Linked DNA regions of Homo sapiens: region 1 is linked to region 2. The links come from fine-mapping of genetic effects on gene expression. A gene starts in region 2. The other region holds a variant in brackets. All regions are shown on one strand. Distances are between the middles of the regions.

What was found. PIP is the estimated chance that this variant, and not a neighbour inherited with it, causes the effect. A credible set is the group of variants that fine-mapping cannot tell apart.
Region 1: its variant is the best candidate, but not a certain one, in a credible set for the expression of CHST13 in tibial nerve (GTEx, PIP 0.74).

What each region holds. Positions count from the first base shown.
Region 1 is chr3:126,543,726-126,549,093 of GRCh38, forward strand. It overlaps a transcript of C3orf22 not described here. Among named protein-coding and RNA genes, the nearest start is that of C3orf22, 13 kb to the right of the region's middle. RefSeq lists an enhancer at 5,347-5,368. The variant T/C (reference allele first, on the strand shown) is at 3,138.
Region 2 is chr3:126,521,719-126,527,086 of GRCh38, forward strand. It overlaps CHST13 (carbohydrate sulfotransferase 13), which reads left to right and starts at 2,437. Exons shown (of 3, transcript NM_152889.3): 1 at 2,437-2,711. The coding sequence starts at 2,615. It also overlaps a transcript of C3orf22 not described here. RefSeq lists enhancers at 1,761-2,261, 2,262-2,762, 2,823-3,323, 3,324-3,824.

The DNA.
Region 1 (5,368 bases), 22 kb after region 2:
ATGAGTGTGTGAGAGGAATTGTGTGTATGTGTATGTGTGAATGTGTGAGTGTGGGTGTGTCTTGGGCCACTTGTCTCTGAGCTCCCCCAGGGCTGTGTCCAGAGGCCCTGCCAGCAGGAATGGGGTGGCCAACTCCAGTGGACCTGGGAAGGGGCTGCAGCTGCCACTGGTTTCCCCATGAGGCCTCCCCCAGCCTGGGCCCTTCCCCCACTGGAGGGACATACAAAGCCCAGGGCCTTGCACCATTTCCAGCGTTCCCTGGGTGCTATGGTTTGAATATTTGTCCCCTCCAAAACTCATGTTGAAATTTAATCCACAATGTGGCAGTCTTGAGAGATGACCCAACCATTAAGACGTGACTGGGTCATGAGAGCTCTTCCCTCACGGATCAATTAATCCATTGGTAGTTTACTGGATTGATGGGTTGATGGATTAATGAGTCACCATGGGAGTGGGACCGGTGGCTTTATAAGAAGAGTAAATCAGACCTGAGGTAGTGTACTCAGCCCCCTCACCACGTGATGCTCTGTACCACCTCCGGACTGTCCAGAGCCCCTGTCAGCAAGAAGGCCCTCACCAGATGCAGTCCCTAACGCTGGGACTTTTCAGCCTCCATAACTGTAAAAAGTAAATTTCTTTTCTTTATAAATTACCCAGTTTCAGGAGCTCTGTTACAAGTAACAGAAAAGGGACTAAGGTACTGGGCCAGAGCCCCACTGTTTAGAGACAGGCTGAGGAGGGAAGGATGGGGCCTTGGCCACACTGGGGCCACTGTCTTTGTGAGGGGCTCCCTGGCCCTCACATGCTCCCTTAGAGGCCACACATGCTGTGTTCTAGGCCACTGTGTGTGCAATTGTTGCACACCCATTTTGATGACACATGCCTTTGTTCCCAGCTCACTCAGCTCCCACACAGCCCCCGATGGGACCTGTTTGCTGAAACTGACACCCATCTGGATGTCTCACTCCCAGGTGTCTCACAATTAGATGTGCCCTGCCTCCTGCTGTCATGCCCTCAGCACCTGGACATGCTGGCAGTTATCACACTCACAGTCCCTTGTGTGGGCAGCTACTCCACTGCTTCCCCACTGATGCCCCCATGTGTACATGCTGCAGGCACCCAGTGTCACCCAGACGCTGTGCCCACCACATGCAGCTCTGTACCCTCTGCTGTATGTGCAGGGCCACAGCCCAGGCCCTCGAGGACTGAGGGCGCTGGGGCAGCTCTGGAGGCTGTCCTTGGGGAACTCCACCTGCTCTGGCCTGCTGTGGCCTGTTTCCTCTCTGGCTGGTGCCAGAACGTCTGTGTCCTCACAGATCACAGGCTGACCACCCTGTGGGATCCCAGCTGGATCACTAGAGGATACAAGAAAGACAGGGTCACATGTGCAGAGCTGGACAACACAGGGGGGTGCCCAGGTGATTCTCCATCTGGCACCTCCTTCAGGCAAGTGATTGTTAAAACCATAGTCCAGTGCCCACAAGGGCTGATGGCACAAACCCAAGGTCACGCGGCATTTTAACTTCCTTGAAATTGTCTTTTACTTCCCAGGTTTTCAGTCTCTTAAAGTTGGATAGTGCTGGCAGGACACCTCCCAGGATGGGGTGCCATTGCTGGTTTGGGTTACAGACTTCTTTAAAATAAGTGTAAGTGCTCTTTTGCTTTTTTCTGGCTTTCATTGTCAGGAAAATGTTAACCAACTTTCTGCAGTTATGGGGTAGGGCTTGTTTTTCTTTTCAGTTTTATTCTGTGGCTTTGTCATTCAGGCAGCTTCCTGAGAGGGATGTTTCCAATGCTTAAAATTTAAAATAAATCCCTGGTTTCTCACAAACAGCGAGATGTAATGCATTATTGTTTTGGAAGCACAGCCGAATGCATCTGTGGGCTTCAGCAACGAGTAAGACAGTAGCAGGGTGAAGGCAAGGCCCAGGGCTGCTGCATGCAGCTCCAAATGTGTGTCACCAGCACACTCCAAGGGGTCAGTGGGCCCAGATCTCAGGATGCCACCTTTCCCCATCATGCTGTGGCTCCTGCATGAAGATAAAGGTGCGGCTGCCTGGGACAAAGGCTTGATGACAGTCGTTTAAGGTGTTTTCTGTTATCCAGAGGAAGGGGGCTGAGGGCTGGTGGGACAGATGCTCCAATGGGCCACTTGGAGCCCAGGACCCTTCTCTTTTGTTGCTCCCTAGTCCCTAGGGCCTGGCCCTTTTCCATGAGAGTGAGCCATTCACTTTTCAAGTATCCCAATGTCAAAGGGAAAAGAAGGGCACCCAAGCTGGCTTTAAAGACACAAACTGGACAGTCCATTCCATTTCCAGTGCAATGCCATTGGCCTGAACCTAGCCCACTGTATTCCCAGTGGCAAGGGAGTCTGGGAACTGACAGCCAGTTTTAGGTCGGGTGCCTCAATGCGCTCCCTAGCATCTGCAACCCTCCCGCAGTCTCCCTCTGACCACCAGGCCTCTTGGCCTGGGCACAAGAAGGCTGGGTGTGCAGGAGTTAGTGCCCCCTGGAAGCAGTCCTCACCTACATCTGTTGGAAGTCGGGCGATAAATGCTCCAGCTTTTATCCCTGCATGAAGGACATTGAGACACAATCTGCATGGTGCCCCAGATTTCCCCACGGGGACTGGGCACCAAATGCCCTCAGTGGCTGCTGTGGACTGAATTATGTTCTCCCCAGTCTTATGTGGAAGCCCTCACCCACAATGTGATGCTATTTGGCGATGGGGCCTTTGGGAGGTGATCAGGTTGAGATGAGGTCATGAGGATGCGGTCTCCATGGTGGGATTAGTGTCCTCATAAGCAGAGCCACTGGAGAGTTCTCTCTCTCTCCCTCCCCGCCTCTCCCTCTCACACAGGGAGAAAGCAGCCATCTACAAGCCCAGAAGAGAGAAGAGAGCCCCCATCAGGGAACCAAGGCAGCTAGCACTTTCACCTTGGACGTCCAGCCTTCCTTGGAACTGGGAGAAAATGAACATTGTTTAACTCCCCCCAGCCTGTGGTGTTTGCTACGGTGGTCCCAGCAGACTAAGCCGTGGTTGCCAGCTCAAGGGTACATTCCTTGTCTGGTTCCGTCCCTTCCCTGTCTCCTCCCTACTTCTCTATGGGCTAACTGGGATTGCCTCTCACAAAAAC[T/C]ACTCACACTCCATCCTTGCCTCCAGAGCTGGTTCTGCGGGACTGAGGCAAAGAGGGAATCAACCATAAATCCATGATGACATGCTGCTTTTGTTCCACTGGTCTTAAATGCTAGGTTAGTTTGGATCCTTTTCTGTGGCAGTGCCGACATGAATGTTGTTGCATACCCTCCTCCTGCATAGGTGTGAGTGTGACTGCAGGATAAACTCCTGGGAGAGGGTCCACACTCCCCAATGCACCTCCACCGTGCCTCATCCTTTCTACCTGTGGATCTGTGTTTGACTGTAACTGCTCACAGCTTAAGGGCACATGGGGACCCAGATGGCCTCAGAGATGCAGGGCACAGGGCCCATGTTGCTATCTGGGCCACTGTGTGAGCATTTCTAAAGTTTATGGAGTAGCTGTGCTTAGAGAGTATTGCTGCACCATCTCTCTCCTGTCAAACATTTCAGCTGTCACCCGCTCCTCTGCAAGGGCTTCCATGCGGTGCAGCTTCCTGGGGGCTCATTTTCTTCTTTGCAGGAATAACATGCACATAAACCTAAACTCAGTGCACAAGGCAGGGGCTGCAAACACATCCCAGCTGCCCTCAGATTCTTCCTTTAAACGCCCAGGAGAGGAGGCACGAATTACAGACCATGTATGTTTTTATAATTGACTCTGGATTCAGGTAATGAGTTACCAACTTTTTCTACAAACCACCACCAGCTTTGCTATCATGAGTGGAAGAGCAGGCAGCCAGCGACCCCTCCTGCTCCAGTCCCAAAAGCTCTGGGCCCTGCCTATAGTGCAGGTGTGGACCAGAGGGAACCTGGAGAGGCTGGGAACTCTCTGGAAATTGTTCTGGCAAGAGCTGATAAAGGAGGTGCTCAGGAGCCCTCCAACCAACCAACCAGCAAATCCTATCATGGGTTGGGGAGGGGAGACAGTACACCCCAGGGGACAGGGACAGGAATGCCTAGAGCAGCAGCACCCACAGTAGCACAAAGTGGAAACAACCCAGACATCTACCCAAAAGAGAATGGACACATCATGGAATGAGAAACAGTGGAAAATGAAGGAACTACAGCAGTAGCATCATCATCACATGACTCTTAGCAACTTGCTGTGGAGGGGAAAAAGTTGCAGAGTTTGACACAGTCTTATATAATTGAAAAAAGCAAACAATGTGTTATTTCAAGGAGTGCAGTGGTGCGATCTCAGCTCACTGCAACCTCCACCTCTTGGGTTCAAGCCATTCTCCTGCCTCAGCCTCCTGAGTAGCTGGCATCACAGGCGTATGCCACCATGCCCAGCTAATTTTTGTATTTTTAGTAGAGACGGGGTTTCACCATGTTGCCCAGGCTGGTCTCGAACTCCTGGGCTCAAGTGATCCACCTGCCTTCAGCCTCCCAAAGTGTTGGGATTACAGTCGTAAGCCACCATGTCTGGCCAAATTATAACATTTTTTAAGTGGGGAGAAAGATGTGGTGACCTGATGGGCAGGGTACGAGGGACTCAGGGTGTGGTGAAGTGGGGGAAGGAGCACCCAGCAGGGATAAGAGTGGGTCTCGTGTCCCTGGTTATGCTGCATGGTAAACATGCGTTGCTGTATTTTGCTTATATCAAACAGTGCATAGCTTAAACCTCAGAGACAACCTCCTCGAAGCTTATACAGTCCAAATGAAGATCAGCCTGGCTCCCACCCTCACAGGAAGGGACCCCAGGGATCTTTGCTTCCTGCAGGTCTGTGGGTGCTGCTGGAAGCTGTACTCTATCCCCAGGCAAATGCTGTGAGTCCCCTGCCTGGACCTGGGGTCCCACCTGGGGAGGGAGCCTGGAGTCTTGGCTGGGGCGGCACAGTGCAGCCCGGTCACCCTTCCCCAAACACCACAGATGTGACTCCAGGGTCTGCTTCGTGCAGGTTGGGAACCCACCCCTGTCCTGCCCCCAGGGCCTGGGAAGCCAACCCCCTTCAATCTTTTCATCACAAGGGTCCTCACTTCACTTCCTTTCTGAGACAATAAAGCCACTTGCCCACCTGGGGAGAAGACAATAAAGCCACATCCCACTCCAGGGAGAAGGCTGCAAAGTGTCCTGATTTTATTCACCCTCCCAAGGAACTCCAAGGTGACTTTCTAGCCCCTGTATTTGTAGAACACAGTGGGGGGACCCTTAAATCTTCAGCAGGCACCCCGCTGCCCAGTGCTGCTGTCTTGCTTTACAAAGGCATCACCAGCCTCCAGCAGCCA
Region 2 (5,368 bases):
GATCCTTGGATCGCTGCCCAGCAGAGCTTCCAGACGGACACCACCTGCCAGTGTGAGCCAGTGGGACACTGGGCCTGGGTGAGCCTCCCAGTGATGCAGTGCCAGCTGCCTTCTGACTGTGGCAGCCTGAGACTCCCATGAGCACTCAGCCAAGCCCATGCCCCAATTCCCAATACACAAAATTGTGAGCAAAATTTAAATGGTTGTCTTAAGCGGCCAAATTTTAGGGCAGTTTGTTACCTAGCAACAGCAACTGGAACATCACCTCAGGGCCTTTGCAATGGTACCTGCTGGCTTCTGCTCCCTGGAGTCACATCTCTGCTCCAATGCCACCTCCCCCAGGCCTGCCCCGGCACCCTCCTTGCACCGGACACACTTTTCATCCTGGTACCCGCTGTGTTTTCTTCACAGCAGCATTCACCGCTCTATCTCTCTATCCTGATTTTCCGTGCTTCCAATCTGTAATGGAAATGCTGTGAGGGCAGACACTGCATGGGTCTCACCCTCTCCACCCAGGCCTCAGCACGGAGTGGGTGTTCTGTATCTGTCGAATGAATGAATGAATGCGAGTCCCTGGGAGAGGGCGTCTTCGCAGGGAAGCTCCCTAGGCCCCGGGCGTCTAGCCAGGCATCTGCACCCTCCCACCCCAAGACCCAAGACCATCTCTTCCTTTCTCCAGGGACCCCATTTCCAGGGACATCTCCGGATGAAGGGCTGAGATGTTATTCCCAACTTTGGCCACCAGGTGGCAGCATATAAGGGCAAAGCGCGCTGAGGATTCCAGGCTGGCAGTGAGGCCAGGGAATGCCGGTCTGGGGAAATTTGGAAGGCACCTTTGGATGCGAGTTAGGTCCGGCAGGGAATGCAGATGACCTGGAATCCCTGGGTCCTGGGCCAGTCTGGGGGTGGGCTAGAGGTTCCCCAAGGCCAGAAAAGTCATGATAAGAAGCTTCTAGCTTACTGTGAGTCTGGACTCCCACCCCTGTCCTTTGAGAACATCATCACCATTTAAAGCTGTATCTCAAAACCAGCAGAACTATTATTTGCTTAATATTCTTCCTTAAATAGATCTTCCACAACTTAAATAAATATAGTAGGGAGAAATTTTTATTTCACCACTTTAACAGAAACCAGCCACTTGCCAGAAACAGGCAGTAACCATAAACAAATTAATTACTAATATCAAATACTTACCTGGCACTCACTGAGTGCCAGACACTGTTGCAAACATTTCCTGTATCTCATTTAATCTTCACAGCACTGAGGTTTAGGATTATCCCCCCGTACAGGAAAATGGGAAACAGAGAGGTGCAGTTAATTTCCTAATCTCCCACAGCAGTAAGCGGCACCAGGTGGGTTTGGAGTCACCACATTTTTCAAGAACAGTTTAACAACTGGAGCTTCGAGTGTGGAATAATAGACACTGGAGACTTGGAAGGGTAGGAGAGTGAGCGAGGTGGGAGGGATGAGGAATTACTTAATGGGTACAATGGACATTATTTAGGTGATGGTTACACGGAAAGCCCAGACCTCACCACTGCATATCTCCATGTAACAAACCTGCACTTGTGTCCCTTACATTTATACAAAAAACTCCAAAAAAAACCTACAGTGTAATGTAGTACCCTATCCCATGCACTCACACTGCTAAATGTTGTTTCCAACGCACTCATCCGCGCACCCAGTGCCAGCTGCACCCTCCCGTTCCCTGCTAGCCTGACTTCTGGGCAGCAAGACCCTGCGGTTAGACGTGGGCTCCTGCCCACAGGGCTAGCTGGATGTGTGTGTCTTTCAAAGGCTGGACTTTACTCTCACCTCGCCCCCTCCACCCCCCAACACACACACACACACACACACACACACACACACACACAGTCCCTGGCAAGTCCTCAGAGCTCACGTGGTGCCCAGAGAAGTTGTGGGTGACACGATGAGGCACAAGCTCCATTCCCCGGGGGATGTAAGCTGAGACCCTACCTCTCTGTGCAAAGGCTAGTGCCACCTGCATGAGCTAGATTCAGGCAGGACCTGGAGACCCTGGAGGAAAGCAAGGCTGCAGGGTAGCCTTGGGTCGGGGAGGGAGGGACACTCTTAGGCCTCTTACTGAGGGCGGGGGTCCCGGAGAGCCATGGACAGGGCAACGCTCTACTAGGCTCCTTGGTTCATCCCAGATCAGCCCTTGGGCCCCTGGCATCTAAGGCAGCAAAAAGGCAAGGGGACACCGCCCGGGGTGGGGCACGCCACCGCGACAATGCCTCTTGGCCTTGGGTGGATAATGGCACCCCTGGGCAAACCCTAGGGGCGGGGCCCAGAGGCGAGGGGCTTCCCCAATCAGTCTCCGCCCTAGCGCCCTGGACTTCGGCCCCATTCCATTGGGTGAGGGTGGGGGCACGAAAAGAGGAGCGGGCTTGCGGCCCCACCGTGTCCCGCCTCCTCAGTCCCCAGCGACTCGCAGGGGCTGGTGGGGCTGGGGTCCAGCTGCCGTGCTCCCCTGCCCTGCGCCGCGCCGCGCGTCTTGGTAGGCGCTGCGCTGCCGGGGCCGGGTCCTGGGCCAGTGCAACTCCGCCCCCAGCCGTATCCAGCGGACTGTCCTCCGCCGCGCGCCCGGCACAGCATGGGGAGGCGCTGCTGCCGGCGGCGCGTGCTGGCGGCCGCCTGTCTGGGCGCCGCGCTCCTGCTCCTATGCGCCGCGCCCCGCTCCCTGCGCCCGGGTGAGTGCCCGCCGGCCGAGCCGCGCACCCCCAACCAAACCTGGCTCCTCGCGCTTTCCACCGCGGCCTGACCCCTCGACAGCGCGGGGGACACCTGTTGTCTCCTTCCTGGCTGGGGCTAGGGGTGGCGGGCAGGGGCGCTGGTGAGGCACAGAAAGGCTCTAGACGCCCCCGCGAGCAAAGGCTCTTGCTCCTCCTCCGGAGTTACCTCCCCACTCCCAGAGCGGTGACTGTTTTGAGTCCCACAGCCGGTGCCTGGAGACCGGGGTCAGTTGTGGGGGGTAGAGGACAATTGGCCAATCCGGGAAGGCCATCTCCCTTACCTTCACCCCCTTCCCCTGCGCACCCCACGGCCCCTGGACATGAGCGCTGCTGGGCGCATGCGCATAGGAGGGGAAGCTTGGGCCACTCGGTCCGGTCCCTTGGTTGTCCTACTGTGCAGTGGGTGCCACTCCCTGCTCCACCCTGAAATCCACACTGGGTAGGGCTTGGGACTCCTGTGCACCCACTCGTGGTCTGGCTGGGGAAACTGAGGCAGTTAGTCATGACTCCGCAGAGCTGAGTGCCCTGGGCTCCACCGGTGCTGAGTCTTTGCTCTGAGTCTCTCCTCAGCTCATGTGAAGCCTCCCATCAACCCATTTCACACAATCTGAAGCGGGCCAGAGAGTGGGGAGACAGGTGTGGTGGCAACGTGCTGGCTATACAATCTACTTGGGACTGGAGGGGCCCAGCCAGCGCCCGGGTCTCCTGACCTCAGGGCTGTTTGCCTTTCCTTGTATGTGGTATGCGTGCTGGGTGGGACGACTCAGTCCGCCTCCCCACCCCCAGTGTGGGCTCTGAGAATCCTGGGCCCCACCCTTGGAACCTGGCAGACACAGTCCCAGGGAGTAAGTAACTAGGTCCAGGGTGGGCGGGGATGTTGGGCAGTGGGGGTGGGAGTGGCCCAAGACTTGAGGATATCAGGGCCTGGGGAGGCCTCTGCCCACTCCCCCTGACCCTCACACTGCCCCTTGCCCCTTGTGTGTCCAGACACAGCAGGTCAGACCTGGATGCCTCCCCAAGCCCATGGGATAGGGCTGGGGTGTCTCTTTCCAGCACCCCCACAACCCCTTCTGTGAGCTGTCTGGTGGTGTTGAGCAGACAATCTCCTGGCAGTCTGGGGTGTGGACTCAGTGTCTGTGGCTGCCACAGCCTCTGTCCACCGAGTCATTCAGTAGACAGATGTTTACCCAGTACTAAGACAGGGCAGAACTTGGTGGCTACTGGCCCCTCAGGGCTCAGCGTGGGATGTTAGAGGACACCTGAGTGCCTGGGTCCCGGGGAGTGTCTGCAAAGGAGCATACATCTTTGAGTGACTGCATGGAGTGTCTGCGTCCCCATGTCTCCGTGGGACACCTCTCTCCTGTCACCTACTCTACCCAGGTTTGAGGGATGAGAAACAAACCAAGGTACTAGTCACCTTCTGGGCTTTGTTCCTTCTGACCTCCCTCCCTCTCCTGCAGAGCCTGGGAAGAGACAGCAGGTGTTAGGAGGACGGCTCCGAACCTCCCTTCCCAGCCTCTGCGCAGGCTGGGCTCTCCACCTGGCCTGTCCTGCTCTTGGCCATGACCTCACCCAGCATCTCAGCATCTCTCTCTGTTTCTGTCAAGCGCTCTTGTACCTCTCCCATGGCCTGTCTCCAGCCATCACAGCTTTGTGAGTGACCTTGGGCGAGCAAGAGTTAATCAGACCAACCTATCCAGCCTCTCACACTGGCTTTTCTCTCTCCCAAGCCCTGAGCTGAAGCTTTGGCTGAGACTATGCTTGTGGGCCTGCAGGTGGCACACAGGGAGGGCACTCAGCTGGGAAAGGCCTTTTCCTGCCAGGCTAGTCCTGCTGGAGGGGCATCCCCTGCCCTTGGCCTCTGGAAATGGCCTCACGAGGGCCTGCAGTGTCTCTGCAGCCATGCCTGAGTTGGAAGGGATGTGGTCTGTGCCCTGTGAGGGCTTCTGGCCTGGGGATGAGGGCTCCAGAACTCAGGAGGGATTTCAGCCCCTTCTCCCAGGAGGGCAGGCCCAGCACTGTCCCCTCCTTCTCCAGAGCAAGAGGCCCAGCACTGTCCCCTCCTTCTCCAGAGCCAGAGGTGCTGCCGTAAGTTGGGCAAGGGGCCACTGAAGGGCTACTGGCTCAGGCCTGGGGCTCTTGCTACCCCAGGGAGCTCAGAGACATTCTAGTAGGGGGAGGTCTGCGGCAGCCCCTCCACAGCCACAGCCTCAGCCCCAGGGCTCCACCACCTGCACTGGCCTACTGCTTAGGGTCCCAGGGAGGAGGAGATTCCAGGAAGGTGGGGCAGCTGCCCAGAGCACTGCTGCCCTCATCACCCCACCCTCATCCCCAGTGCCCAGCGGCAGCTCCCAATGGCAGACCCCTGGGTCTCCTGCGGCCCCCTTGGCTCCCTCTGTGTTTTTGCCTGGGCATGGTGACCATGCTTCCCGTGGCTGGCACACCACGGACCACGGACCTGTTGGTTGTCTGCTCGTGCAGGTACTGGGAGACAGTGGGGAACAAAACTTAGAAATACCCCTGCCTCGAGGAGCTTACATTTTTAATATGAAAACCCAAGATCTCAGCTCTATGTCTTCTGCCTCTGAGACACCGGCGGGAGCAGTGTTGGCACC